Linked DNA regions of Homo sapiens: region 1 is linked to region 2. A link means that fine-mapping ties the variant in region 2 to the plasma level of a protein whose gene starts in the linked region. Region 2 holds a variant in brackets. A gene starts in the other region. All regions are shown on their reverse strands. Region 1 holds the start of MCEMP1 (mast cell expressed membrane protein 1). Region 2 overlaps LINC02846 (long intergenic non-protein coding RNA 2846).

The links. PIP is the chance, under the fine-mapping model, that this variant and not a neighbour inherited with it causes the effect. The UK Biobank Pharma Proteomics Project read protein levels with antibody pairs (Olink). The fine-mapping took linkage between variants from a reference panel, not from the people measured, so its PIPs are less certain.
Region 1: MCEMP1 starts here. The variant in region 2 is fine-mapped to the plasma level of the MCEMP1 protein (UK Biobank, PIP above 0.99).

The regions. Positions count from the first base shown.
Region 1 is chr19:7,674,639-7,677,499 of GRCh38, reverse strand. It overlaps MCEMP1 (mast cell expressed membrane protein 1), which reads right to left and starts at 410. Exons shown (of 7, transcript NM_174918.3): 1 at 325-410. The coding sequence starts at 379.
Region 2 is chr9:136,106,140-136,109,040 of GRCh38, reverse strand. LINC02846 (long intergenic non-protein coding RNA 2846) reads left to right here. Exons shown (of 2, transcript NR_189286.1): 2 at 222-1,192. Among named protein-coding and RNA genes, the nearest start is that of LINC02846, 1.8 kb to the left of the region's middle. RefSeq lists enhancers at 343-955, 2,229-2,278 and a silencer at 1,819-1,918. The variant G/A (reference allele first, on the strand shown) is at 1,731.

The sequences.
Region 1 (2,861 bases), not on the chromosome of region 2:
GTTAAGTGGAGCGGGTGTGTGAGAGTTTGAGTGATCACACCACACACACATCCACACACACATCCACACATCTTGGAGGGGAAGGAGCCCCCGGCCCCCACCTTTGACCCCTTACCTCTCCCATCTGAACTCTCCTTCTTTTTTTATTTTTATTTTTTACAGACAGAGTCTCCCTATGTTGCCCAGGCCAGTCTCCACCTCCAGGGCTCACGCAATCCTCCCGCCTCAGCCTCCCAAAGTGCTAGGATTACAGACATGAGCAAAAGCCCCCGGCCCCCCAATCTCTCCTTCTTAACCCCTCCCTTCCACCTCGAGTTCCCTAACCTTGATTCTTGGCTGAGACCCCCTGTTTCTTGTCCCTGAAGGCTGGTGCTTGCATCTTGACTTCCTGGTGCTTGTAGATTTCCTCCACTTCCATGGTCCCCAGCCCGCAAATTTGTCCATACACGTCCCCGCCCACCGGAAGGTGTGGGCAGATGAGGAAATCTGGAGGTGGGGGGAAGAAAGAGGGGGAGCAGCCTCCTCTTTTCAGGGATCCACGACTCTCGCACCCTGGGGCACCCTCATTCCTGCCCCGATCAAGAGGCTCTTGGGAGCCAAGAGGTCTCAGGAAGGACCAAGAAGAAAAACCTCTAGACCGGGAGATGGAATTCGACACTCGGAAATGTTACAGGAAGCTGTGGTCTCTGTGTGTGTCTGTGTCTACCTGGATGGACCTCACCCTCCTACCTCCTCTCCATTTCAAAAGAGAAGCTGTGACACCTCAGTGTCCCAACTTTTCGCGTAAGAGCAACCAGGCTTGGAGACAGGACCCCTGGGTCCCCCCACACCTTCCTCCCTCCAGCCTCAGCTCCACCCCTCAGCTCCACCCCCAAGAAGTTCTTCTACTTCTACAAGTCCCCGTGGAGGAAAAGCACAGATGTGAGGCAACGGGAACTAACCACTGGAACGCCACACCCACATCTGGGACTGAGGACAGACCCACATCCTTCCCTCCCTCCCCAAATCCCCTGCTTTTATACAACCCTGGAGGAGGCTGGGTGCGGTGGCTCACGCCTGTAATCCCAGCACTCTGGGAGGCTGAGGTGGGTGGATCATCTGAGGTCAGGAGTTTGAAACCAGCCTGGCTAACATGGTGAAACCCCGTCTCTACTAAAAATACAAAAATTAGCTGGGCGTGGTGGCGAGCGCCTGTAATCCTAGCTACTCAGGAGGCTGAGGCAGGAGAATCGCTTAAACCTGGGAGGCGGAGGCTGCAGTGAGCGGAGATCACACCATTGCACTCCAGAATGGGTGACAAGAGGGAAACTCTGTCTCAAAAAAGAACCCTGGAGGAACAGTTTCCTCTGCACCTGGAAACTCCAGGTTTCTCATTCTCATCCATCCATCTGCTTATCTACCCAGATACTCTCTCTCACACATGTACACACACAGGTCTGCACACGGACACACATCACAAACTCATTTGCATACTATTTGCATTGTGACACTCAGAAAAATAGACACAAGCATGCGTTCACATGCCCGCACTCTGTCTAGAAGGTGTCTTAGTTCACTTTGTGTTTATCTGATCTTGAAAACTGGGGTTACAAAAGGCACAAAGTAGCTGGGTATGGTGGCTCGCTCTGTAGTCCCAGCTACCCAGGAGGCTGAGGTAGGAGGATCATTTGAGGCCAGGAGTTTGAGACCAGCGTGAGCAACATAGCAAGACCCTGTCTCTTTAAATGTTTTTTAATAATTTTTTTTTGAGACAGGGTTTCACTCTGTTGCCCAGGCCGGGGTGCAGCAGCGTGATCATGGCTCACTGCAGCTTTGACCTCCCTGGCTCAAGTAATCCTTCGTCCTCGGCTTCCCGAGTAGCTGAAATTACAGGTGGGCACGACTTCACCTGGCTAATTTTTCTCCTTTTTTGAGATGGAGTTTTGTGCTTGTCACCCAGGCTGGAGTGCAATGACGCTATCTCAGCTCACTGCAACCTCCGCATCCCAGGTTCAAGTCATTCTCCTGCCTCAGCCTCCCAAGTAGCTGGGATTACAGGCATGCACCACCACCCCCGGCTAATTTTGTATTTTTAGTAGAGACGGGGTTTCCCCATGTTGGTCAGGCTGGTCTCGAACTCCTGACTTCACGTGATCTACCCGCCTTGGCCTCCCAAAGTGCTGGGATTACAAGCATCAGCCACCGTGGCCCAGTCTAATTTTTCTTATTTTTTGTAGAGATGAGGGTCTCAATATGCCGTCCAGGCTGGTCTTGATCTCCTGGGTTCAACTGATCCTCCAGCCTTGGTCTCCCAAAGTGCTGGGATTACAGGCATACATTTTTATTTTTATTTTTTTCTGGCCAGGTGTGGTGGCTCACGCCTGTAATCACAGCACTTTGGGAGTCTGAGGCGGGCGGATCACCTGAGGTCAGGAGTTAGAGACACCAGCCTGACCAATATGATAAAACCCTGTCTCTACTAAAAATGCAAAAATTAACTGGGCGTGGTGGCAGGCGCCTGTAATCTCAGCCACTCGGGAGGCTGAGACAGGAGAATCACTTGAACCCGGGAGGTGGAGGTTGCAGTGAGCCGAGATCGCGCCATTGCACTCCAGCCTGGGCAACAAGAGCAAAACTCCGTCAAAAAAAAAAAAAAAAAAAGAAAAAAGAAGAAAGAAGAAAGAAGGAAGGAAGGAAGAAGAAAAGAAGAAAAAACAAGTATAAGACTGTCTTATGTGCAGAAAGTGATGATGTTTTGGTTAAAAATATGTGGTTAAATTTCAGACAACTTGAATGTTGAGAAATGAGCGTCGAGATCTGGTGAGGATAAAGTTCTGTTTCCTAAAATATTGCCAAATCCTGTGTCTCCAAGAAAGATCAAT
Region 2 (2,901 bases):
GGCTGAGGAGGAGAAGCAGGGGCAGGAGCGGTGAGGAAGAGGGGCATTTGGTCGAGGTTGGGTCAGGTAAGGACACGGTGGTAGGCAAAGGCCAGGGGGCAGGTGGGGTGCCTGGGAGGTCCGTGGTCAGAGGATGGGTGCTGGTGGGGCCTGGAGATGGCGGTGCTGCCTCCACCCTCCTGAGCCTGGAGGCCTGACAATTGCATCCGAAAAATCCACAGCCACCATCGTGTCAGCAGCACGTTGACCATGGCTCACGACATGGGGACGGGCATTCTTGCCGCTTCCTCAGAATATTAACGACGGTCCCAGCAGAATGCTGTATGAATATTCATATGGAGCTCAATCAAGCCTGGGCTGGCGGATGGCACAGGGAGAGGCGCCGTGACAGGCTGGGCCCGGGTCCCAGTGGGCACACCTTGGCAGGGTGTGGCCGTAAGTCTCCGCCAGCTCCAGCCAGGATCTGCCTCCCTCGGGATGGGACAGGCCTGGGCCTGTTGTATGGCCACAGGCAGAAGAGGCCGATGAGTGACATGACATCACCACTTAGTGACTGCCCTCGTCCTGGGAGCCCAGATGCTGGGGCGGGGCTCCTTCCTGAAAGACCCAGAGAAGTTCATCTCAGGTTTAATGGGGGCACTGCTGCCTCAGAAGCCAGGCAGTGGGTGGTGAGGTCCCTGTCCTCACTGGGGTCTGCAGCCGAGGAGGACTGGCCACCGAGGCCCAGGCCAGGCACAGGGATGCTGGGTGGCCATGGCCAGTCCTCCCGGGAGCCCCTAGCACCTTGGGCCTGCCCCCAGCTCTCACGCCGGGAGAGGTTTTTTCCCACTCCGGTGGCCGACGCCCTGGTGAAGGGATTCGCAGAACGGGAGCACATGGATTTCCAGTTCTTCCCAGCGGGCGCACGTAGGCCGGCACCCTCTCTCTCGTCTTTGGGCAGAACTCGAGTGCTGCTAGACCCTTGGCCCCGCTCACTGCGCTGGGCCGCACTGCACCCATTTCCTCCCAGCAAGGGCGGTCCCTGGACTCCTCTGACCTGAACTGCTTCCGAGTTTGCTTCTCAGAACCAAGAGGGGCTGGCTCTGCGCCCTGCCTACCTGTCCAGGGGTGGGGGCTGCCCTTTGAAGCTATCAATCTGGGTTTTAAGTGTGGATTCATTATTGACAACACCATGACGTTATGCTGACATGAATTATTTGTATGTTTTTCAAATTGTGCTGTGATAACCCTGGCTGTCTTCCTGCTCCCATAGTGGATAAAAGCGTCCGAAAGAATGCCGCCATCTCTCTTCTCCCCACAGCCTGGAGCTGGGCCAACCGGAACTCAGCCACCACCTGTGCTCGGTGCAGCCTGGTTTGACCCCCACCCTCCTCCACCTGGCTGGGGTGCGTGCCTGGCACATGTATGTGTGCACGTATGTGCGTGTGGGGGTGTGGCATTTGTGTGCCCAAGTGTTTTCTGCTGTCGTGTCTCACGTCCTGGCTCTGCCGCCCTCCACATCCATGGCTCCTTCCCGTGCTCCCTCAGATGGTCCCCCAAAGAACGGAGGGACTCCGGCCCCTTGAGGAACAGGGAAGCCCCTGCCTGGGTAGCCACTGGCAGGTGAGTCCTGTGTTCCTGCCGAGAAAAAGTCTGCTTTCAAACGCGGATGGGCAAGCACTCCCTTTGCGGTCGCCGCGCTTGGGGTCGCCGGTTGCTGGGCTGATTGGCAGGAAGAGGTGCGGCTCCCC[G/A]GCCCCTCGTGAGGCTGTGCAGCCATCTGCCCCTCTCCAGGCCCAGCTCTTCCTGTGAGATAAGGGGGCGGGAACCCAGGGAGGCTGGGCCTACAGCGTGCAGTGAGGTGAGGTGCTGGACTAGCTGTTCTCAGGTCACCCCCAGGGAAAGCCCTAGGCCCGCATTCTGTCCCCAGGTGGGAAGTTCAGGGAGAAGGAACCAGGGCTGGGGTTGGACTCAGGGCGGGGGGCGGGGGGGCGGGGCTCACGATGTCACCTGTGGCACGGCTGCCGCAGTGGGCCAGGGAGCTCCAGATTCCCTGGGTCACCGTCTTACCAGGGCCTGGGTTGGGGCCTGGGTCGGGGCCATGGGATTGCAGAAGCAGCACTGGAGGCTGGTGCCCTGTTCCTTCCACCAAAACTGGGCAGACCCTCTCCTCAAGGGAAGGTGCCGGGGGCTGGCTGCAGGCCCTGCCTGAGGCAGATCTGATGACCTTGGGCCAGGAAGACAAGGCCATTTGTGGCCCAAACCCTTTCCTGGGGCTTATTCTCAAGGATGTATCCTGGTGGGGGCTGTCTCCAGGGGTCGGTCTGTAGAAGGATGCTAGACCCTCTCTGGGAGCTCCGAGCCTAACACGAACAAACAAAAGAACAGGTTGCTGCCCCACGGGTTCCTGGGGCTGGGTGCAGAGCAAGCCTTCACATTCACTTTCTGAATGACTGTGCCAAGGGCCAGCTGAGGCCCCCACGAGTACGTCTTCCGGGCAGGATGTCCCTCGAGAGCTGTGCTTGCCTCTCACCAACTTAGAACTAACCCCACTCCCAGGCTGGGCACGGTGGCTCACACCTGTAATCCCAGCACTTTGGGAGGCCGAGGTGGGCGGATCACTTGAGGTCCGGAGTTCGAGACCAGCCTGGCCAACATGGTGAAACCCCGAATCTACTAAAAATACAAAAATTAGCTGGGCGTGGTGGCAGGCGCCTGTAATCCCAGCTACTCGGGAGGGTGAGGCAGGAGAATCGCTTGAATCTGGGAGGTGGAGGTTGCAGTGAGCCGAGATCTCACCACTGCATTCCAGCCCGGGGGACAGAGCAAGACTCCATCTCAAAAACAAACAAACAAAAAAGCCAACTACCCCCCGGCCCCCCCAATACACCCCGGAAAAGCAGCCCTGCTGTTTGGAATCTGACC